Linked DNA regions of Homo sapiens. The protein of the gene in region 6 interacts with the protein of the main gene of each other region in a pairwise test. Each region holds a gene or a part of one and is shown on either strand. Other genes may lie near its edges. The genes, in order: BACH1, TRIM55, MAP4K4, EXOC1, ITSN1, KIF5A and FMR1.

What was found.
Region 1: the proteins of KIF5A (region 6) and BACH1 interact in a two-hybrid assay, tested with the Homo sapiens proteins (one large-scale study listed by BioGRID and IntAct).
Region 2: the proteins of KIF5A (region 6) and TRIM55 interact in a two-hybrid assay, tested with the Homo sapiens proteins (one large-scale study listed by BioGRID and IntAct).
Region 3: the proteins of KIF5A (region 6) and MAP4K4 interact in a two-hybrid assay, tested with the Homo sapiens proteins (one large-scale study listed by BioGRID and IntAct).
Region 4: the proteins of KIF5A (region 6) and EXOC1 interact in a two-hybrid assay, tested with the Homo sapiens proteins (2 studies listed by BioGRID and IntAct).
Region 5: the proteins of KIF5A (region 6) and ITSN1 interact in a two-hybrid assay, tested with the Homo sapiens proteins (2 studies listed by BioGRID and IntAct).
Region 7: the proteins of KIF5A (region 6) and FMR1 interact in a two-hybrid assay, tested with the Homo sapiens proteins (one large-scale study listed by IntAct).

Annotation. Positions count from the first base shown.
Region 1 is NC_000021.9:29,336,922-29,340,421, forward strand, and holds part of BACH1 (transcription regulator protein BACH1), read left to right. Parts: intron 1-3,500. UniProt on the Homo sapiens protein: Transcriptional regulator that acts as a repressor or activator, depending on the context. Binds to NF-E2 DNA binding sites. Plays important roles in coordinating transcription activation and repression by MAFK.
Region 2 is NC_000008.11:66,130,129-66,133,628, reverse strand, and holds part of TRIM55 (tripartite motif-containing protein 55), read right to left. Parts: intron 1-3,500. UniProt on the Homo sapiens protein: E3 ubiquitin ligase that plays an important role in regulating cardiac development and contractility, muscle growth, metabolism, and fiber-type differentiation.
Region 3 is NC_000002.12:101,889,707-101,892,448, reverse strand, and holds part of MAP4K4 (mitogen-activated protein kinase kinase kinase kinase 4), read right to left. Parts: intron 1,284-2,742; coding exon 1,200-1,283; 3' UTR 1-1,199.
Region 4 is NC_000004.12:55,856,648-55,860,147, reverse strand, and holds part of EXOC1 (exocyst complex component 1), read right to left. Parts: intron 1,835-3,500; 5' UTR 1,825-1,834; coding exon 1,701-1,824; intron 1-1,700.
Region 5 is NC_000021.9:33,897,501-33,900,361, reverse strand, and holds the end of ITSN1 (intersectin-1), read right to left. Parts: 3' UTR 501-2,861; downstream 1-500. UniProt on the Homo sapiens protein: Adapter protein that provides a link between the endocytic membrane traffic and the actin assembly machinery. Acts as a guanine nucleotide exchange factor (GEF) for CDC42, and thereby stimulates actin nucleation mediated by WASL and the ARP2/3 complex.
Region 6 is NC_000012.12:57,548,710-57,552,843, forward strand, and holds the start of KIF5A (kinesin heavy chain isoform 5A), read left to right. Parts: upstream 1-1,334; 5' UTR 1,335-1,562; coding exon 1,563-1,691; intron 1,692-4,134. UniProt on the Homo sapiens protein: Microtubule-dependent motor required for slow axonal transport of neurofilament proteins (NFH, NFM and NFL). Can induce formation of neurite-like membrane protrusions in non-neuronal cells in a ZFYVE27-dependent manner.
Region 7 is NC_000023.11:147,932,419-147,935,918, reverse strand, and holds part of FMR1 (fragile X messenger ribonucleoprotein 1), read right to left. Parts: intron 3,495-3,500; coding exon 3,324-3,494; intron 3,235-3,323; coding exon 3,156-3,234; intron 1-3,155.

The DNA.
Region 1 (3,500 bases), on a different chromosome or scaffold from region 6:
TCAGCCTCCCAAAGTGCTGGGATTACAGACATGAGCCACCATGCCTGGCCTTTTCTTGTTTTCTCTTTTCCCTCCCTCCCACTCTTTGGAATCACAGTGGACTCATGGATTAATTTTTTCTGATTCAATTTGTTAGGATAAGTAATAGTCATTATTCTTTTTGATGTTGACATTTTTCAAATTTGGCCTGGGAGAGCCCGTTCAAGCCAGCTCCTGTCCTGTTGACATAACCATCTAGCACTTGCCATGGTCTCACTTTTTAACCTCTATTGTTTCAAGATTTGGAATCACCCATTTCTTTAAAACTCCTGGTTTCTTCTAGCAGTTATATTGGACTTTGGAAAGCCTACCTGCTGCTGGAGTATTATTCCTTCTGGGCCTTTTTCAGTGGACAGAGCTAGGAAATATATGCATCTGTGTATAAAATAAAGTTCATTATATCATGAATTCATATATATCAGGCTTCAGTAAATGAAAGTAAAAAGTACATTAGAAATCCTGAGTTTATGTAGTATTTCCAGTCCAAATTTAGCAGTATAGAGCTTTTGTCTTCACTTCTGTGTTTATGTTTAATCTCTCATCATTTACAGGAAAAATTTTGGCTCCAATTACATTAGTGTATTGTTTCCTTTATAATATACAGTAAGTTCTCACTTAACATGAAATGATGGATAATGAAACCAGTTTTTTTCCTCATCAACTTTATAATGAAAGGATGTTGTAAAAATGAGAACACTTGGACACAGGGTGGGGAACATCACACACCGGGGCCTGTCGTCGGGTGGGGGAGTGGGGAGGGATAGCATTAGGAGATATACCTAATGTGCCGGGTGCGGTGGCTCAGGAGTTCGAGGCTAGCCTGGCCAACATGGTGGTGCAAACCTGTAATCCCAGCTACTCGGGAGGCTGAGGCAGGAGAATCGCTTGAACCTGGGAGGTGGAGGTTGCGGTGAGCTGAGATCATGCCATTGCACTCCAGCCTGGGCTACAAGAGCGAAACTCCGTCTTAAAACAAAAACAAAAACAAAAACAAAAACAAAAAAAACGAGTTAATGGGTGCAGCACACTAACATGGCACATGTATACATATGTAACAAACCTGCACGTTGTGCACATGTACCCTAGAACTTAAAGTATAATATAAATAAACAATAAAATAAAAAAGAAAGGATGTGGAACAAAATGTTTATTGAGGACCTGGTGTGCGTTGTTTCTCTTAAAGTCAGTTTCCAAAAACCTGTCGATGATTTTAAGTGAGGGCACACTGTATAAAAAGTAAGAAAATTAGACAATCAGTATTACTATTAACAGTAAACAAATTGAGCAGAATTTGAGATTTATTTGCTTTTTTATGCTTAAATATTTCCCAGTGTGAAGCTTTAAAGTTATTTGAAATATTTGTGTTACCAATTTGGCATACAATTAATTTTTTTTTCTATTTATATTACTGGGATTTACTCTACATTTTTTGAGACAGGGTTTCACTCTGTCACCCAGGCTAGAGTGCAGTGGCACAGTCATGACTCACTGCAGCCTTGACTTCTTGGGATCAAGCAAATCCTCTCATATCAGCCTTCTGAGTAGCCAGGACTACAGGTGCGCACCACCATGCCCGGGTAATTTTTTTGTGAAGGTGAGGTTTCGCTGTGTTGCCCAGGCTCCTCTCAAAACTCCTGGGCTCAATCGATCCTCCTGCCTTGGCCTCCCAAAGTGCTGAGATTTTAGGCATGAGCCACCATGCCTGGCCTACATTTTTAATTTGTTTTATTTTGAATGTAAAACGTTTATATGGTTCAAACATTAAAACTATATTTTAAAAAATATATACTCCAAATCTTGATCTCATCTTCTCCTTATACCCTATTCATAGCTACTTCCTATAGGTAACCATTTTCATTAGTTTCTGGATTTTTTTTTCCCTGTGTTTCTTTTCTAAAAATGTGTTAACATTTTATGTCTACTCTTATTATCCATCCTGCTGCATGGAAGTATTTTATATACATTTTTCTGTACTTTTTAAACTTAAGAATTGATTTATAGGAAATATTTTTTCTTAGTTCAGAGAGGTTGTCATTCGTTTTCCAGCTCCATAGTACTCAGTAGTGACTGTAATACAGTTCAAACCAGTCTTCTGTGGGTGGACAGTTGGGATCCTGCAGTGAATAACTGTATACTGTTTCATGTTTAAGGAGCTGTGTCTCTAGGACACATTCCTAGAAGTGGGATTGTTGGATCAAGGGTAAATACATACATAATTTTATTAGATATTAACAGATTCCCCTCCTTAGGAATTGTCATATTTGGCCTTCCAGCAGCAGTATATGTGTGTGTGTCTGTCCACACCCTCAGTCAAGATTTGTTGTCAGCTTTTGGGTTTTTTCCAGTCTGATAGTGAGATACCATGATATCTCGTGGTAGCTTTTATTTTTATCTTATGAGTGAAAATGAGCATTTTTGCTTATATTTCTCAGTGCCATTTGCAGATTTCTCTGAACTGCCGTTCAGAGGTTTTACTTACTAAGGAACTATTAGTGACCATTTTCTAACAGTGAGTACTCTTTACCCTATCATAAAATTGTCACTTGTACTTTTGGTGCCAAATTCTTCTATATCTTTATTGGGTGAGTTATATTTATGATCTTTAAAAAAATTATATTTGAATAAATATTGTGCACTAGCTATTCAAAATAAGGATTTAGATGCAAAGGTTTTTTTTTTTTTTTTTTTTTGAGACAGAGTCTTGCTCTGTCACCCAGGCTGGAGTGCAGCGGCACAATCTCGGCTCACCGCAACCTCCGTCTCCCAGGCTCAAGTGATTCCCCTGCCTCAGCCTGCCCTTTTAGCTAGGTTTACAGGTGTGTGCCACCATGCCCAGCTAATTTTTTTGTATTTTTATTAGAGACAGGGTTTCACCATGTTGGCTAAGCTGGTCTCGAACTCCTGACCTCACATGACCCGCCCACCTCAGCCTCCCAAAGTGCTGGGATTACAGGCGTGAGCCACTGTGCCCAGCCTGTAAAGATTTTTTGTTGGTATAAAATCCAGAATGGTACCAGAATGCCAATTTTATTCCTTTTTAAGAAATAGCTCTAATTAAAGGTGCAGCACTTCAAACGTGATTTATACAGTTGTTTTTATAGGAAAATGGAAATATATTGTAGGGATAGGTAGCAGGACACTAATAGTGAGTCCCACTCATGACTGTAAGTAGTGACTTTGGGAGGTATCTTAAATACTGATGTCATTAAGTAATTAACTTGAATTACTTGTATTTTACTTTTAGTTATTAAGCTGACTGCTATTATAGTAAATATGTGTCTTAAACTTAGAGTGAAATGGAAACTGCTTAGAAGCTTAGCTGTGTAGGAGTTAAAGTGCAGGGGAACAGATGGGAACATTTAATTTATAGAAATAATTCTGGTGGAGTTCTAGGGCTGTGCCTATTTGTTTTAGTTGTTGTGAAGAAGCAAGCCATCTTGTATACTTAAAGAATGATGTCA
Region 2 (3,500 bases), on a different chromosome or scaffold from region 6:
TTTCAAAATTTTAGAATCTGACTGTTGCAAAAGGAATTTCTGTCTGGTCTTGCAGCAATATGCTTTCCATGAAGTCTATGACCTTCTGATTTGACCACATTATTTGGAACTCAAATAAGGAAGTCAACTCCACAATTGAGAAAATTATCCTCCTCTCAGGTCTGTCTGTTTCCTCCACTAGAATATCAGCTCCATAAGGGCAGGGGCCATGATGAGTCTTTTTTTTTTTTTGCTGCATCTCCAGTACTCGGAACAGTGCCTTGCACAGAGGCAGTGGCTCCATAAATATTTGTTGCACAAATGAGTGAGACAATGAAAGGGAATTTGACCTATTAAATGGACAGTATTCCCTGTGCTCTAGTGTAACACCACCCAGCTGGAGAAGGCATGGCAAATATGGGGAAAGCCTGGGATCACCTGGCACTCCTGAGTGGCAGAGGAAGAGACCAGACCACATCCTGATTACTCCTTTAATAAATGACAGTGCCCTCTGGGGTTGGGACTGGCAAGTTGGTCTCTGCCTGGTCAAAGGCTTCTTCCCCTCTAAACCCTTCCCTCGTAGGTATCTCCACCTTATTATTAATGTGGGCTAAGCAAGAGTGGGCAGCTTGGGTCCCACATGCTGTTCTGATATCAACAGCTGTGACCAGAGATTGCGTCATAGAGCACAGGTCTATGCAGTATATGCAAATATTGAAAATGTGAAAACAGCCATAAGGCTCTACATTTAGTTTTGTTTGTGATTCAATTTATTTATTTTTTTCATGGTGCTGTATACACTGAGAACAATTTCCCATATTCCTCATTGGGTTTTTCTTATTTAGGTTGTAGCCCAGCCCCAGAGGCACCACTTACTCATAGATGAGCATATAATGAAACCTCTGTACAACTTCAAACATGTAACTGACTTGGGACCGATTTGGCATGTAAAAGAATGACATAAATACATGTTTATGAGGTGAGAGCAGCCAAGCTCACAGCTGTGGTCAGGGCCCAGTGCTAAATGTTGGCTGTGGCCCCTCACCGTTCAGTGTAGGCTAGACTGAGAAGTATGTAGCCTGCTGTCTCTGGTCTCTGAGGTTCCCGGGGCCACCCTAGAGTTTCCTGAGGAGTGGGCATCTGGTCTTGGTGAGGCAATTGAAGTAGTAACTTTGTAGTCAAACTGATATTTTTTTTGAGATGGAGTTTTGCTTGTCGCCCAGGCTGGAGTGCAATGGCTCAATCTCAGCTCACCGCAACCTCCACCTTCCCGGGTTCAAGCATTTCTCTTGCCTCAGTCTCCCAAGTTGCTGGGATTACAGGTGCCTGCCACCACACCTGGCTAATTTTTTTGTATTTTTAGTACAGATGGAGTTTCACCATGTTGGTCAGGCTGGTCTCAAACTCCTGACCTCAGGTGATCTGTCCACCTCAGCCTCCCAAAGTGCTGGGATTATAGGCGTGAGCCACTGTGCCTGCCCAAACTGATCTTAAAGCTTCATTTCAGCTCAGCTTCTCCATGTAGTGGCTATGTGGCCTTAGACAAGTTACTTAACCTCTTCTGGTCTCAGTTTTTACTCGTATCAAATATCAGATTAAGGGTCTTCTAATTAAATGTGGCAGAATGAACACAAGCATGTATTTATTTATGTATTTATATATGTATGTATGTATTTATGTATTTATTCTGCTGAAATCCCAGTGAAATGAGGATAAGGAAATAAAAGGGCATAAATCAATAAGGACAAAAAGTGAGCACAGATGACAGCAGATGAGAGATGTCAACCAAATGTTGGAAATTAGGAACATCTGGATGAAGGGACATGACCTACTTGAGTTGCATCTTAGTTCTGTTACATTCCTGCAGTGAGAAGCTTACAATAAGCAAGCTGACTTGAGCTATGGAACCCTGGAAAGGCTCTGGAACTGCAGGAGCCAGTAGTCCTGAAGGTGGAAGTAGGCGGTGACAGACTGGGAGAGGCTGAAAAGAGGAGGACTTTGTGCATGTTTTAAGAGATTACTTGAGGATGTGCTCCATAGAAATAAGAGAGTAAGCCACCAAACAAGGAGACCTGGAATCCAGGGAGCAAGGGGTTCAACCCAGGGGGAGAGTAAAAGAATTCCCAAGTAGAGGTAAAGCCCAGCCATGTGAGGGCTCAGTCCTAATTGTCTACAGTGGAAAGTCAATAGAAAATGTCTAAAATTGAAAAATCAAAGAATAGGAGCATACCAGTAGTATGCACATGTCATTGGTGATAAATAGCAGAAAAACAGCTAAAAGAATTAAAAGTGGTTGACTCTGGGGAATGAGGCTTGGGGGTGGGTAAAGAGAGAACAGAGTGGAGACTGCATTTCTCTTCAGAGGCCCAGTAGTAATGAATTCTAAAAGTTGTGTATGTTGATTACTTTAAGGCACTAAAAGCTTTAATAGGGTAGCAGTAATTATAATAATCAACACCTCACCGGATTATTGTGAGAATTAAAGAATTGCACATGATTCATGTGTTAGGCACCCTGAACAGTGTCTGGCATGCAGCACATAGTAGTTTTACTTGTTATATTTTAAAGTTAATTATTATTATATTAATTATTAATATTAGCCAAAATAGTACCTTCTCTTACCATCTCCCACTCCCAACTGTGGCTAGTCTGGCACCATGCAGAATTCTGGATAAGAATGCCAAGTTTTGGCTGGGCGCAGTGGCTCATGCCTGTAATCCTAGCACTTTGGGAAGCCGAGGCGGGTGGATCAAGAGGTCAGGAGATCGAGACTATCCTGGCTAACACGGTGAAACCCCATCTCTACTAAAAATACAAAAAAATTAGCTGGGCGTGGTGGCAGGTGCCTGTAGTCCCAGCTACTTGGGAGGCTGAGACAGGAGAATGGCGTGAACCTGGGAGGCAGAGCTTGTAGTGAGCCAAGATCACGCCACTGCACTCCAGCCTGGGAAACAAAGCAAAACTCCATCTCAAAAAAAAAAAAAAAAAAAGAATGCTAGGTTTTGTGGAGACTTACAGTCTCCAGCCTTTCTGGAGGAGGTCAGAGTTGACTGACAACATCCCAGTCTGTGATTGGTCACCCCCCCCGACCCCCTTCCAATAGCCACAGCTGAACTCTTTTCATTCTGTATATCCAAGGTCATTCCAGTGTTACCTAATGTACCCTGAGGCTCAAGATTCTGGTCTAGTAAGGCTGTCTGCCCCCAGGGGACAACTGCGTTTCCTCCCAGACATGTGGCCAAGTGCTCTGTGCAACTTGTGGTTTTGCTACCAAGTAAAATTGTCCCACAGGAAAGTCTCAAGTTCAAGAAAAAACAGCATAACAAAATCACAGAAAATCACAAAAGCATCCCTAGTTCACTCAACTATGAGCTTTATTGTTGGAAATTTGGTTCATTGCTTTTACGCAATTTACTTCCCAGGCCTGGGTACTATTTTTGGCAGCTGCACCAAGCCAACTTCATAGCTAAGGTGAAGATGTGTTTTGTAGTTTTACCAATACTGCAAGTTTTAACATCTCT
Region 3 (2,742 bases), on a different chromosome or scaffold from region 6:
TCTAATGGTGAATCTGGTAAAAACAAAGCATTCTGGTTTCTAAACTTGTAAGTAAACTGCATCAGCCTTAAGGCTATTTCCCATCTTCATGGACAGTTCTTGTGCCTGCTGATTTGTGACAATAAAAGTCAAACTTCAATCTGGTCGTTTTGGTATTAAGATTAAATTAAACATTAATGGTTTCTTCCAAAAACATATAAACTAAATCACCTCTCAATGCATTAAGAACAATGAGGTAGGCAAAAAAAAAATAAACATGTGGTTTGAATTTTTTTCTTTCTTCTGCAAGTGCAGACTGTGGTAAAACTTTTGTTGCACGTCTAGGTTTAAACAAAAATTAAACCTTTAACTGAGGCAGTGCTAATACTGTCACACGACAAAGTTCTGGCCATTATACAAAATGCACACGTTTTCTTTTTCTTTTTTTTTTTCCTTTTTTTTTTTTTTTTTTTTTTTTTTTTAGAACCATCTGCACATGATTTAGGCAACCTGGTACACAGAAAAATGACTGAGTTCTTGGCCAGGACCCCCACCCCAAATCCAAAGAAACAAAATGGGACCCCTTAACCCACCCCACCCCATCTCCCAAGCCCCACCCACAAAAAAGTTATCCTAGTAACTGTGTCTTTCACATTTTATAAATATTAACTTCTTAAACCTGCATCTTCTTCTTTGTCCACATATCGTCACATTACAAAAAAGAAATGTCAATTAAATACACTGTTAATGTTACTATATTAAATCTGCTCTCTGCTTCAGCACTCCGCTCCTTTTACCACCACTTCTCACCTCCTTGTGCCCACTGCCAATAAAACCAACGGCATGTTCATCGTCGCCACTGTCAGACACCCACAAGACAGAGTCATTCAGAGACAAGGAATTCTGGAGCTGGAGGAAAGGTGTTTGCTTTCCAGTATGATGCTCAATCCCAAACACTTATAGCACCTGATGGTAGAATCTGAACAGCACCAGCTGCATTGCAGCCTTGATTTATTTTGGAGTAAGAAAAAAAAAAAGAATGGGGATAAACTGGTATATAAGAGGAACAGGAAGGAGGGGAGAGAACCCAACACATGAGGTCTGCACACACAGCTGTCCTGGTTGCCCTCGGTGCAGCTCCGAGCTCCAGTTACAAGGAATTCCAAGTTCTCAGGATCTTGAAGACTCTGGAGGCCAGTAATCCCTGGATCACACTGCTTCTACCAGCTCAGAAGAGAAGTCCTGCCTAAGGTCATGAAATAAACCTGACTGCTGCCACCAGACCGAACAGAGGCAAAGAACACCTGCAAAAGCAAGAAAAGAGAGGGAATGGTTACCATGGTCATGAAGCACTTCCAGCCAGGGAATCTAAGCCACCATCATCCTCAACACTGTCAAGTACGAGAAGCTTAGACTCCCAAAGAGCCTTTTCAAAAGAAACTCTGAGGCCAGGTGCAGTGGCTCACACCTGTAATCCCAGCACTTTGGGAGGCCAGGAGTTCCAGACCAGTCTGGCCAACATGACAAAACCCATCTCTACTAAAAATACCATGTGGTGGCACACACCTGTAATCCCAGCTACTCAGGAGGCTGAGGCATGAGAATCACTTGAACCCGGGAGGTGGAGGCTGCAGTGAGCCAAGGTCACACCACTGCATTCCAGCCTGGGCAACAGAGCAAGACTCTGTCTCAAAAAATAAATAAATAAATAAAAAGGCTGGGCATGGTGGCTCATGCCTGTAATCCCAGCACTTTGGGAGGCCGACGTAGGCGGACCATGAGGTCAGGAGTTCAAGACCAGCCTGGCCAAGATAGTGAAACCGCATCTCTACTAAAAACACAAAAAATTAGCTGGGCATGGTGGTGGGCTCCTGTAATCCCAGCTACTCAGGAGGCTGAGGAAGAGAATTGCTTGCACCCAGGAGGTTCAGGTTGCAGTGAGCCGAGATCACGCCACTGCACTCCATCCTGGGCGACAGAGCAAGACTCCGTCACCAAAACAAACAAACAAACAAAAACAACCCACAAAAACCTCTGGGGCAATTATCAATTTATAATTTGTAAGGAGTGACCATCTGCAGCCAATTTTTATTACAACTCAGGCTTGTTACTACTAACTCCTTACACGTTGGCATATTGTGAGACAACAAAGGAAAAAAATGGATGTTTCTGAAGTTATTTCTTTCCACTTCTACTGTTAACACCTTCTAATAAATAAATGTCTTTAAAAAACACAATGAGCATCACGGAAGACTCCTTAACAACCTAATTTCTTTTTAAAAATCAACAAAAAATGTATTAATTACTTCATATAACCCATAAATAGAATTTTTGTGCCATTTATTAATAAATCTTAAAGGACATGACATGCATGATAAAAATATTTAAATGCCTGAAATTCAAAGAATGCTATAGTTGCAGCTATGGTAAACATACTTAGGAAAGTATAAGCCAACAAGCTGACAAAATCCTGGATTAGGTCTGAGCTGTAGAGATTTTCAAGGTCACAGATTTGGGAGATAATCTGTAGGCAAAACTCCACTTGAAACTGAGTTGTAGGGTTGCAGAAGACAGTGGGTAGAGGTGAAGTGACTTTGTGTTTGGGATGTATCGGGCAAGCAGGACCAGCTGCCAAGGACATATGTGTAGCTTCTTCTTTCTTGCATTAAATGACTAAATGTTTAAATCTGAGAACTGGGCTGACTGCTAGTCTGTCAATGTGACGCAAAAGGTGGAAACGTTCTTCAGGGCCAAGTTTCAAAG
Region 4 (3,500 bases), on a different chromosome or scaffold from region 6:
AGGTAAAAATCTAAAGAATGATTGACATAAGTAAAGTCTGTGAGGCTTGAAAGAGCAAAATACCATTTCAAAGAGCAACAATACATTTATATATAAAGTTCTTACTATGTTGCCCAGGCTGGTCTTAATTAAACTCCTGGGCTCCAGCGATCTGCCCACCTCAGCTTCCCTAAGTGCTGGAATTACAGGCATGAGCCACTGCTCCTGGCCTAAGAATTTCTTTATAGCAATGCAAGAATGGCCTAATACAAATACATTACGATTGAGTGAGGTCATTCTAAAAAGTCAATTTATCATTTCAAAAACCAAGTACAATTATATACTACACTAACAAGGAAGAAAATTTTATGATATCAATGATATGAAAAAGCAGTTGATAAAATTCAACTCCCATTCATGATTTTTTAAAAAAGTGTAAGAAACCAGGAATAGAAGGGAACTTACTTAACACTGTAAAGTATAGCTATAAAAACCCTATACCAAATACCATGCTTGAAAATGAAGTCATTCTCCTTGAGATGGAGACTGTATTGATAGTCCTAACTAGGAAACTAAACCAACAAAAATAAAAGATATAAAAACTATAAAGGAAGGAAGAAAAATATCACTACTTTCAAAAAGTCTACATATAATTAGAATTAATAAGAAAGTTTGGCAAGATTGATAGACATCCATATAAAACACCAACAATTCATTGTAGAATTCTAACAATATATGATTTTAAAATGTATTAATGTTAATAAGCGCTTTCACGACTATCAAATAAAATCTAAGAATAAACCAATACTCAGGAGTAAATCCAAGAATATACATGACAAACCTTTAGAGAAAATGATGAAACTTATAAAGTTAAAAAACACCTAGATAAATAGAGAACTGTACCATGTTCATGGACACAAAGATTCAATACAATAAAAATGCAAGTTCTCTCCAAATTGAACTATAGGTTCAAAACAATTCCAATCAAAATCCCAACAAAGTCTGAAACTCGACAAGTTGTTTCTAAAATTTAGGTGGAATAAAGAACAAAAACAAAATAAAAATAACATATAAGATGACAACCAGAAATGCTCACACACACCATGACAGATGTCAACACAGGTGAACTAAGACTAAACTGTAAAAGGCAAAATTATAAAACTTTTGAATTTAGGAAAATATTTTTATGACTGCACAAAAGATACAGGGAAGGATCTTTTAAGACACCAAAAGGGAAAGCCATAAAGGATTAATTAATTTCATTTAGTTTAAATTATAAATTTCATTAACAGGCATCATAAAAAGTGAAAAGACAAGCCACTAACTGGGATGCATACAACCAACAAAAGGTTGATAACCAGATTATAGAAAGAACTTGTACAAATCAGTAAAAGGACAAGCAACACAACAGAAAAATGAGTAAAAGGCTTAAACAGGTAAATTTCATACACAACAGAATGAAATGACTAAGAAATTCATGAGAAGATGCTCAATCTCATCATTATAGGGAAATATAATTTAAAACCACAATGAGATACTATTTCACTGCCACCAGATTGACAACAATTAACAGCCTGTCAAAGCCAAGTGTTAACTAGGAATGTGTTGACCCAACAATTTTTCCAATTACAGAGACAATGAGGATATTCAAAACAAAGAGGAAATATCTTCTAAATAATAAAAGGATACAAAACAAGTACTCTTTCTTACTAAATACCCACCTGTGGCACATAAAAAACAGTTCTTTTTCTTTTTTCCTGCTTTGCAGACATTCACAATGCTCAGCAGGCGTTCATCATTTGGTGTAAAAATGTCTCTTTGTAATGCATGCTTGATTGCTGTCATCTTTTCTCAGCTGAAAAATGTGGAGTATAGATATTAAGCTCACCCTCAACATCATTCCATCTTATACTTCTGAATTTATGATTTGAAAATAATTTTTGGTTAACAAGCCTAGGAAAAATGATTTAATATATGAATACACCTATATCACAAAAATACAAAGCTGTAAGTTTGGAAATAAAATTAGAGAACCAGTGTTATCAAACTCTAAAATGTTTGGAAATGCTCACCAAGTATACACACACACACAAGATTTAAGAAAAAAATCTTCAACCCACTGCTCAAACTTTTAATATAGTTTTCTACATAAAGAACCCTTACAACAATAAGAAGACAAATAACCCCATTAAAAACTGAATAAAAGACCTGAACAGACATTTTTCCAAAGATATACAAATGGCCAATAAGCATATGAAAACATGCTTAACATCACTGGCCACTAGGGAAATGCAAATCAAAACCACAATGAGGTATCAACCACTTTACACCCATGAGGGTGGTTAAAATAAAAACGATAGAAAATAACAAGTGTTGGTGTAACAAGTGTTGGTGAAGATGAGAGGAAACAGAACTCTCATACATTGCTGGTGGGATTGTAAAATGGTGCAGCCACTTTGGAAAACAGCTTGGTGACTCCTCATAAAGTGAAACATGGGCTACCTTATAATCCAACAATTCCACTCCAGGAGAACTGAAAACATATGTCCACACAAAAATTTGTACATGAATGTTCATGGTAGCACTATTTGCAATAGCCAAAAAATGGAAATAACAGAAATGTCCATCAAATGATACATAAGCAAAATGTGGTATATCCATACAATGGATTATTATTCGGCTGCAAAAAAAACAAAGGGCCGGGCACGGGCGGTGGCTCACGCTTGTAATCCCAGCTCTTTGGGAGGCCGAGGCGGGCGGATCAAGAGGTCAGGAGATCGAGACCACGGTGAAACCCCGTCTCTACTAAAAATACAAAAAAATTAGCCGGGCATGGTGGTGGGTGCCTGTAGTCCCAGCTACTGGGAGAGGCTGAGGCAGGAGAATGGCATGAACTCGGGAGGCGGAGCTTGCAGTGAGCCGAGACTGCGCCACTGCACTACAGCCTGGGAGACAGAGCCAGACTCTGTCTCCAAAAAAAAAAAAAAAAAAAAAAAAAAAGAAAAAAAGGAAATGAAGTAATGAAACATGCTAAAATATTGATGAATCTTGAAAAGATTATGCTAAGTGAAAGGAGTCAGCCACAAAAGACCACGTATTGTATGATTCCATTTATATGAAATATCCAGAGTAGGAAAATCCATAGATACAGAAATATAAGTGGTTTTCGGGAGCTGGAAGGGAAGGTGGAAACGAGGATTGACTGTTAATGGGTATGGAGTTTCTTTTTTGGGGTGATGACAATGTCTTTCAACTAGATAGTAATGATGGTTATACAACCTTGTGAATATGCCAAAAATCACTCAATTATACAATTGAAAAGGGTAAATTTTATGATACATAATCTCAATAAAACTGTTATAAAAATAGGTTTCCACTTATCTCCTTTTTCTTATCTAACTCAGCATCTTTTCAAACATCAACTTAAAATAATTTTAAATCTCTATTTTATTTTTCATATACATATTTGTGTGGATATGTATTACAATTTTTCAATGCAAATGTGTAGTATTTCATACATG
Region 5 (2,861 bases), on a different chromosome or scaffold from region 6:
ATAGGTAGGAATGGCCTTAAAACCAGAACAGGAGGAAACAACCTAATACAATTCAGCGTTGGGTTTTATGGAACGCAGAATTATAGATCACCCAAGTGCTGAACACGTGGAGTTACGTGTGTTAGAAACTTCTTCCTGGAAATTCAGCGACCCTTCTGAATGTCTTTATAAGAAAATCAGCTTTTTGCACCGCCCTCTCAACCCCACCCTCAGAATTTCTTATGCTGTACAACACAAAACTTCTCCTGTTCTCACAAAGACTTCGTACACAGAAATCTATTTCTGCTTGGTGTTAGCTAACATTTATCTGAAGCCGCAGGACAGCTGAAAGGGTTGTTGGTTGGTTTTGTTTTCTAGGTTTATTTCTGCACAATTTTCCTTGCACAGCTACAATCTTATCTGTGGGAAGAGGAAGAGACACCATTTGCAGGGCTGTTAGCTTCCTGTGCTCTCAGAAAAGAGTGAAGCAGAAAGAACCCAAAATAATCCACTATAACAGATTGGCTTTTCTCCTTTTATTCATGAACTATTTGAATTTAAACCACACAGGTCAAAATGACCAAAGAGTTGTTTTTTGTTTTTGTTTTTGTTTTTGAAGAGATTGTTCTTTTTAGGTTCAAGATACACAGGAAGAGCAATTTGTACTGATGTTGCTACTGGTTTAAAGAAAGGTCTCAGTTACCATCATCTTAATCGGTAAAATTTAACATTTCACACATAATAAGTTGCCAAAGGAACACTCAAACAGCAAAAACAAACCTCAGCTTCTTTCAAACAAAAAAGAAGAAACAATGTTTTGGCCCTGCTTCATCAAACCTTTAGACAAATACGTAAGTCTACAATTTATAATAGTGTCTAGTAATTCTTAGAATTCCATTAACATTACATATCAGACAATATAGTCTCTCTTTTATGGAAAATTAAACAGTACCATTATTTGGCAACAGAAGTATATTACAATCAACAGCACATCCATCAAGGGGCGGGCCTGGTCCTACCCCTGGGCAGGGCTGTGAGGGAAGCAACATGCCACCAGCACTGTGGCCCGCTTGTCACTGGAAGCACAAGGAGCTCACGTTCTGATGGATTACATTCTTTTCCAAACAGGCAAAGGCTATCTGGGAGGGTTCGCTAGCACTCCTGGGAAGGGAGGGCCCCATGTTCTAGCTTTTCTTGTCCCCAGACTTTTTTGAAACAACCAAGGCCCAAGGGACAGTTGACTGGCTGACTTGTTTCCACTCACAGCCCTCTTGCCACCCCAGCCAGAGGGCATCGTTCTAAGGAAGGAGAGTCAGGGCCTGTTTGGGGTTGGTAGACCAGAGCTCATCTCCTCTGCTGGCAGGCCTTAGGTGGCCTTCCAAGGCTGCGCCTGAACAAAGAAATCTCTGAACAGCTCCATCTTTGGGAATAAAGCCAGTTATGGACCACATGGACAGTGCCTCTAAGTGATTTGCAGATTATTCATGCACCTAAATAGATTCCAGGAAGCTTCCAGAAATCACAGCTTCCCATACTCCTGAAGTCAGCAGCTTTACTGGTTCGGGCCTCTCAAAAAAGGGGCTCCAGTTGCTGGTTGACAGCATTAAGATGCACGCAGCCTGTTCAAAGAAATGTTGAAAACCTAACACATTCTTCAGATGTCTTTTCAGACCACAGGCCCTCAACCTTCCACCAGCGGTGTCACCCCCAAACACAATGCATTCAGATCACCAGAAACCAGCTCTTTTTGTTACTGCAGTATTTCCAGGCTGCCAGGGGAGGCTGGACTCCTGGGGTTGCCCCCTCCTGAAATCATTTCTGAATGCCTTTCTCAGGGGTTTAGACATTGAGTTTCACAGAATCCTCCTTAGGTGGCCTAAGGGGCACTTCTGGTGGCCAAGTACAGAAAGTCTGTGCCCCAGAAGCAGCCTGGACTTCTGATCCTTTTCTGGGAATGCAGACGGGAGGAAGGCATCTTCCCCCTGGGGTCTCCATGGAAACATGGGCATCCAGAAGCCTGCCCCAAAACGGCTTAACTCAGAAACCCTAAACCATCCATCCACCCACCTGGCTATGCAACAGTTGAAGACAGTGAGGATGCATCAGGAAATTTCATGGAAAACGCAAACGCTAATTAGGGATAAACTGAATCAATCCAGATACAGAAGTAGAAAGGGCGACCTGGAAGTCAGAGAGTGGCCTCTCTAGTGGGATAGCTGCGTCAGCCCCAGATCCCTAACAAATCCACTAGAACCCAAGGAAGCCTGCGTGGCACATGGATCTGATGAAAAACAGGCTCCCTATCCTCTCATCCTTCCTGACACAAGTACCCTCTCAGATATGTGATCTGCAAAAATCCATTTTTAATGCAACACCAAGGTCCCATGCGAGGTCATAGCTACAGGATACTTTTCATTTGATCACGCCACCATCCATTACACTGAAATTTATCATATTTCCTGCAGGAAAAAAAATGACTCATTTGATTTCTAACATATACAACTTGGAATTTTTTTTTAATATAAGAAATTTAGTTGAGTTGAACCCAAGTAATCTCATTAAGCATTTTCTACTCTTGGAATAGGTTTTAAATTTTTTTCTATAGTTTTATGCACTTAAATTAGATTCCTAAAATACTCTCATATACATACAGAAAAATAATCTCTCAATGACAAATCACATTTTACAATAACAAGTTAAATATTTTTGACTACAGAATCTGTGTTAGTTTATGCAACATTTAACAGCATGGCCTCTTACATACCATATATACATTTAGTCATGGCCATTCCATAAACATACAGCAGAGATTTCATGAGGAACATGAAATGAATACAACCTTTTCCCTTTATATAGTGGGAGTTCGCCTTTTTCTTAGCTGG
Region 6 (4,134 bases):
CTGTCCCATTCCTTATGTTGGACTCTTTTCTTTCAGTTCCCTTAAGATTCAAGGTAGGTTAGAGGTGTAGCCCCAATGTGGGAAACCCCCTGAGTTCTGAATAGTTAGGTCTTGTCTGGCCAGGCTATCAGCCTCTTACTTTTGTCCCATAGTGTCTTAAGTGACCTTAACCACTCACCAGACAGTTGCTGAGCAGAACTTTCCTTTCCTCCTCCTTCTCCCATCCACCCTGCCCTTCCTCTTTGCCTAGAACCTCAACTCCTGCAGTCCAACTCTCTGTTGGCCAGCAGAGGCCTGTGACATGGAGAAAAATCAATTTGGCCAGCTTCTTGGTGGTTCTTTCCAGGGGCTGCAGCAGGAGTCTGACCCAAAGGAAGGAAGGACAAGGAATCTCTGGGCTTGGCATTTCTTTCGTTTTTCTTCCCCCACACCTTTTTTTTTTTGGCCAGGGAAGGGGGCTGAAGTATTGGGACTCTATCCTCCAATGGTTACTGAGACAGAAAACACACACTCCCGTAGGTATCTGAATTTGCCTGAAACCCAAATGCCGGCTTTGCCTCAGACTTCAAAGTCTCTCTGGCCTTACCCATCCCCATCATTGCCCCTCCTTCACTGCTTTCTGACTCCCTTTCTCTTGCAAAGATGTTTCCCACCCATCTTCCTCCCATCCTCAGCCTAGGACACAAAAATAAGTATTGTATCTGCTTTTGAATTCCCATAACCCAGAATGGGAGTTTATCTTCCCTGAAACTGGGGACCTGGTGTGTACGTTGGGGAGACAGTATAGTGCACCTTTGGATGTGGAAGGGGAAGGGAGTAGCCAGAACCTCCCACGACACCCAACTTCATAGGAGTACAGGCAGGGGTCCCCCCAGAAAGCTGAGTGGGTTGGGAGTCCAGCTTCCGTGCATGTGGGGCATGGGATGGGCGTAGGGGGAGAATGAGAAGTGTGATCCCAGTTTGGAGAGAGGACTGTGACGGGTTGGGGGATGCCCTGGAATAAAGGGAGAGGGAGATCTGTTGACCCTTTTCGCTACACAGGCGACAGGCCCACCTCAGTCCCCTTATCCCTTCCAGGGGGTGGAGTCTGAGGGAGGGACAAACAGGTCGGGGGTATAGGGGTGGGATGCAGTGAGTTGGGTGGGGAAGGGTCGAGGGCAAGGTTATCTCCGAACGTTAGGGGTGGGGGAGGGAGGAGAGGAGCGGTGAGGTTCCACCCTTCGGGGGTCGACGTCGAGCCAGCGTCCCCAGTGGAGGGAGCCCCGCCCCCGCTCCTCCATCGCGGCCCCGCCCAGGCCCGCAGCGCGGCGCTGCAGCGCGAGGGGCGGAGAGGCAGAGAGCCCGAAAGGACCAGACGCCCAGGTCGCCCGCATCCCGCTGCCGCAGGAGAGAGACAGCGCGCCCCGGCCCTGCTCCCCAGGCTTCGCCCGGGCGCCCTCAACTCTGTCCCCAGAGACTGAGCACCTGTCCTCCGCCTCGGCCTCTGCTGAGAGCCCTCTCCTCTGGAGCACACACCACCCCTGCAGCCCAAGAAGAGTCCCAGCCCCACGCCGGCTACCACCATGGCGGAGACCAACAACGAATGTAGCATCAAGGTGCTCTGCCGATTCCGGCCCCTGAACCAGGCTGAGATTCTGCGGGGAGACAAGTTCATCCCCATTTTCCAAGGGGACGACAGCGTCGTTATTGGGGTGAGTGTCGCCCAGGAGGGAATTCGGGGAGGGGGCAGGTGGCTGAATCTCCCCGCCCCCCGCAGAGCCTTAGTCTCTGCTGGTCCCTTTGCTCCCCCTCCCCGCCGCTCATCCTTCATCCTCTTCCCCGCAGCCCCTCCTCTCCCCTGCATCAGGATGGCTGGGTGTGGCCTGGCCAGGCCAGCGGCCGAGTCTCTGCAGAGTGGCAGGGGGCTGCTTTCCTACCTTCGGGAGATCCAACTCCCCTTTGCTGCTGTCTGCAGCGTCTCCACCCGTTAGAACCAGTCCCATGTTTTTCTGATGTTTTCCCCTTCTCCACCACCCGCTCCCCAAGAGAAAGCGCATCTTCCCTTTGTTATTGGCTCAGATCTCTACCCCCACCTCCCGGAAGGTAAGGCGGAAGACTTTTGGGTGGATTAGATGGGAGGTGAGCAGTCCAGGGTCTCTGCAGAGTGTGGATGGAAGTGGGCTCTAAGACCAAACCTTCCATCATTCCCTAAAGTAGTTATAGCCTGGATTTTTGTGTGTGTGTTGTGGGGAGTAGGTCTGATGCAGGGTTTACTGGGAAAGAAATCATTGATGCCACACCCAATCTTGGGGGGAGCCTCTGGAATCCTAAGGTCAGGTCTGCCTTTTGGTCCCAGGTACAGTAGGAAGAGGGTTTCAGATTCCCCAACTGACCCCCCTAAAGAAAAATGCCCAAACCCTGAGATCCTAGTCAGTACCTGCTTATTCATCCTTTCTCTTGAGGATCCAATAGAAAGTAGCCATCCAGCTCTACCTCATCATGACAGCCCTACCCAAGGAGGATATCTTAAGGGAACTAATATTAACAGTGGGCCTGTTACTCTACGTATATTATTTAACCCCCAAAACAACATTCAGAAGTAGTATCAATATTTCCATTTTACAGATGCAGAAATTGAGGCCCAAAGAACTTGAATAACTTTCTCAAGGTCATGCTATTCATCCATGGATCTGAACCTAAATCTGTGACTGCAAACCTCCCATCTCTTCTATCACATTGCCTACCCAGGTTTCTGTTCTGCACCTTTATCTGTAATGGCCCAAAGGGAAATTCTAGGCCTTGCCCACTCCCCCTGAGGTTGGTAGGGACCTCAGGCTGTGTGTGGGGAGAAAAGATCTGGGGTCGAGTCCTGTAGGGCTTGAGGGGTGCTGGGCCAGGAAACAAAAACTAGCTTGAGGAGGGAGGGGCATGTACGAGGGCAGTCAAGGTCAGAGGTGCTTCTTATGTATCTTTATCCACAGTGCTTGGCACAGAGCACCTGGACACAGGCTTGTTAAAGGAATGAAGGAAAGAAGGGGAGGAAGCCTGGGCCTTCTGAGTCAGTGAGAATGGGACTTTGAATAAACATGCTTCGGGGGAGACCTGCTTACCAGTCCCCAAGGGCCCCAGTCTGTCACCACCTTGCACCCTTACCCACACTGTTAACTCAAATGGATGCTTTTGGTCTCTCTCTCTCTCTCTCTCTCTCTCTCTCTCTCTGTGTATGTATTTGCCACATGGAGAGGGCCTCTGTTTCTTTTTGCTTCAGGGACCTCGCTGGCCCTGCAGTCTGTTCAGTCTGGCTGGGCTAAAAACAAAACAAAACAAAACAAAACAACCACAAAACAACTCCTGGATCAACTCTGGAGGACCCCTCTCAGAGTGTCCTGGATAGCCAGCATTAGTTGTGAGAGTTGGAGCTTCAGATCCCCCTGAGACATAAAGGCTGAGAAACAGGAGGAGGGTGATGATGGGGGCAAAACTTTTAGGCCCAATTTCCTTGCTCTGGGAGGTTTTTCCAGTAAGACTGAACCAACTCCTTTAGGCTCTCTGGGCCATCCTAGTATAGTGGGATGGGGCAGGGGGTGATGTTGGTAAGAGGGGTGTGGTGTCGATCTGTTGTTAGCCCAGCTAAACAGGAGAGACACACAGTGGGAGGTGGGCAAGGAGGAAAGATGAATAGAAGCCCCAGGCCCCCTGCCAATTCAGATTCCATCTCAGCTCCACAGCTGGATCTTCCTTGTCTGTTTTGCCTGATATCTGTAGGGCTGTACCTTTGTCTTGCTCGTATCTTCCCTCACCCTAGCCCTCCCTGTCAATCTCTCACTTGAAGATAAATGCTTACGGGGGGGCCATTTTGTCTTAGGCAACATCCTTGGAGTTTGCTTTTTCAGACTTAATATTCATTCATCATTTAGGGAATGAGGGCTACAGGAGACATGATTTTTAGGAGACCCTTGAGGGTCCCAACAAGGGAAGGAAATTCCTACTCCTTTTTCTCTTTTCCCCTCTAGCTCTTTTTGGAGCCCACCAGGTCGGGAGCTGGCTTAGGAATTAATGGGGGAGGCTGCTTCAGGATGTCTAGGAAGGTGCGGGAAGAGTGAAGGTGGGAGAGATAATCTTTCCCAATGCAGCCCCTACTCCTTCCTGTGACTG
Region 7 (3,500 bases), on a different chromosome or scaffold from region 6:
CAATGTGTTAACAGAGTATCACTCCTGTGCATTACTTACAAACTTTAGCAATGTATTAAAAAGTGAAGGGATTAGTCACAGAGTAAAAGATTAAGAAAACCCACTTTAAGATAACTCAAAACCACAATGAAAAAGCTTTAAACCAATTTAAGTATTTTTCAGTAACATCTATTAAAACTTGGGATTTCAAGTACCAGTAAAAAATAGGTACTTGATCATTTCCTTATTTATTTTACAATCATATACATTACTGGAAAATGACTGCTTTCATTTGCATCATGACACGAGTGGTAAAGCAAGACATTACAAACTTAAGAATTACTAATTCTGGAAATGTACATGTGAACTACATCTGATTCTGAGGGCTCACCCAAGGTACCTAAGTACCCTTACATTGGCCACATCCACCATGTGCTTGCCCTCACCATCTCATCTTCCATTTTTTCCTTTTCGCCTTTAAAGGCAAAGCTCAAGGCAAAGTTGGGGGAAAAGATGGAAGCAAAAATTTGCTTTGAGCCAATGCTAGATAAGAACTCAGTGAAAAGCCTTCTCACAAAAAATTCTTGTGGCTCTTGTAATCAGAGCATAGCTTTGACATTCTTGCTGTGTGTGGCTGCCTCATTCACCCCTAGAAACTCTTTGACTGGTCATAGAACAGATCTGACACCATTAAATCAGGATTCTTGGTCTAGGTCCTTCTGTCAATTATTTCTGTTCTTCTATAACGAAAAGGGGAAAGGTGAGGTGAGAGAAGCTACTTGGAGTCTTCACACAGTTTGATTTTAAACTGCAACACTTACATTTTCATGAATTAATGTTGACTTTAATAAAGATCTAAGTGAGTTAACAAAATGAAAAATGAGATTTGGGGATGTTTTTATTAAGATAATATCTTAATTATCCTAAGTACTGTGTGTTAACTATAGCTGACTGAATAGTCATACCAATTCATTCTTAGTGAGTGAAGAATCCAATTTTAATGAAAAGATAAATTAGTGCACATACCAAAGAGAGTTTGTGAAAAATAGAGATCACAAATAACGTTGGTTGACTCAAACAAAACACATGCAAAACTGATTATGACACCTCTCTAAAGATCTGCCTTGCAGAATCTTACACAAAAATGCTTTCTGAAAAGTTCCAACGTTCCCAGTGTTGCAGTGGACCATCTCTAAAACAGAATTATCTCATTTTACTAACTAGAAACAACAAAACAAAAACAAGGCTGATTTACTTTTAGCAGTCTTTCTGGTTATTTCTGAGATCCTCTTCTTTCCAGGTAACCACAGGTAGAATCTACTTTTAATATTTAATAGCAAATAATCCAATTCTACATTACACTTATTTCCAAATCCCAAAGAGCAATTTACTGTGATTCTGTTCTACTGAAATGGAGTTGTTTTGAATAAGGTGAAGAACAGAGTCCCCTACTGTGTCCAGAATTGTCCCCTACTATATCTTCCAATTTAATTATCACATCAACTCTATGAGGTGGATCCTATTATCACATTTGATAGGTAAGAAAAATAATTCTCAGGGGGGCTAAGACAGTGACCCACGCTCACATTGCCACCAAAGAATAAAGTAGGACTGAAATCCAGATCCAACTCCAATGCCCAAGCACTTTCCCCACTACCATCATGCCATCTTCAAAACCAACTTTAATGAATCTGACACATAATTCTCTACTCATTTGCTATTAAAAAAAAAAAACAAAACAACTACCAGCTCTTTTTCCATAAGAATTCCTAAATTTACAATAACCTTTCTAACTACAAAAGGTATGCAATTGCTTGACAAGCTGTAAAGAAGAAAATAAATATTATTCATCACCCAACTGTCTTGAGATTAGCACTTTATCTTGCGCTATGCATACATTCTGTACACATACAATTGGTATGCAAGTTACCTTAGTAACATTACAAACACATTTCTCCAGTTGTCTGTAGTACACAGTTGAGCTAACACTTCTGCATTATTTTCCTACTATTTGCACTTTATCTTCAAGCTAATTTTCTTTGGGAGATACATTTATCATTTCTAGTGTTTGTTAATGACAAGGAAGATGTTTATGAGTCTATGCTGACAAAAAAGCAGGCTAAATTAGCATTGAAACTACGTAAACAGAATGTATGAGAAGTCCTTGCTTTCTTCTTTAAAGTTTCCAAAGAACATGTATTACTTTATATAAAATGGCCATGATCTCAAGTTTAAAAGATAAAAAACATATAGGCAGTATGTCCCAATTTTATTTACAAATTAAAAACATATGTAGCTTTCTTGATAAAACTGCACCTGGTTTTGATATGTTCTACTAAAGATATCTGCAGCATTTAGGAGTATTGGTGAAGAGCTCCTAAATATTTGCTGATACTCACGATGGTGATGGTGATAAAACACTACTCAAGTCAAAATGAAGAATTACTATTGACTTTGCAGAAAGTCCCAGAGACATCTGAAGTTTCTTCTAGCTTTGGAACTTTTTAGATTTAAGTAACCTATGTTCAGATCTTCAACCCTGAGATAATTAAAATGAATGCTATCATTTTATAGTCCCATAAGAAAGATCAAATACAAATCTATTTCAAATCATAAAGTCCCCAAATATCATTCATTTTGAAAAATTATTTAATTTTAAGATATAAAAGGTATACAGTCAGGAGGGCTGGGCAAGATTTATCCTTTCAGGTATTAGTAGGTTTGAACTAGAAAAGCAATCTCTTTTGAATACCTTCTGAAAATGTAACCTTTGAGCATCATACTTAACAAATATTTTTTTGTATGCTGTAAGAACAGATCGATTGAACAATGAGAACACATGGACACAGGAAGGGGAACATCACACTCTGGGGACTGTTGTGGGGTGGGGGGAGGGGGGAGGGATAGCGTTGGGAGATATACCTAATGCTAGATGACAAGTTAGTGGGTGCAGCGCACCAGCATGTCACGTGTATACATATGTAACTAACCTGCACATTGTGCACATGTACCCTAAAACTTAAATAATAAAAAAAAAGAACAGATCATATTTCAAAGACTATGTTTCAATTAAATGATACCCTCCAGTAAGAAAAAATGGAATTCTATCACTATAAATAAACTGTTTACCTAAACTTAGTTGTTGTACTATATGTCAACAGATACTTCTGACTTACCTACTAAGTTCCTTGGAACTTGTATTACATCTTCAGCAAATTCGAGAAAGCTTCTAGCTTTTTTCACTGCATCCTGATCCTAATAAAAGGGGAAACATTTTAAGACAAAAGATTAGCCAGCTGAAATACTTGTTTGGGGAAAAAAAAACTATGCAGTAAAATATTTACCTCTCCATAAATATGAAATGTGCAGGTATCTTCATCTAGATCAATAGCAGTGACCCCAGGTACTTTTCTAGCTTGCTGAATATTAGCACCATGAGTACCAATAGCTAGACCCATCAGATCTTCTCTTACGATAAACTGTTCATGAAATCTCGAGGCAAGCTGCCTTGAACTCTGAAG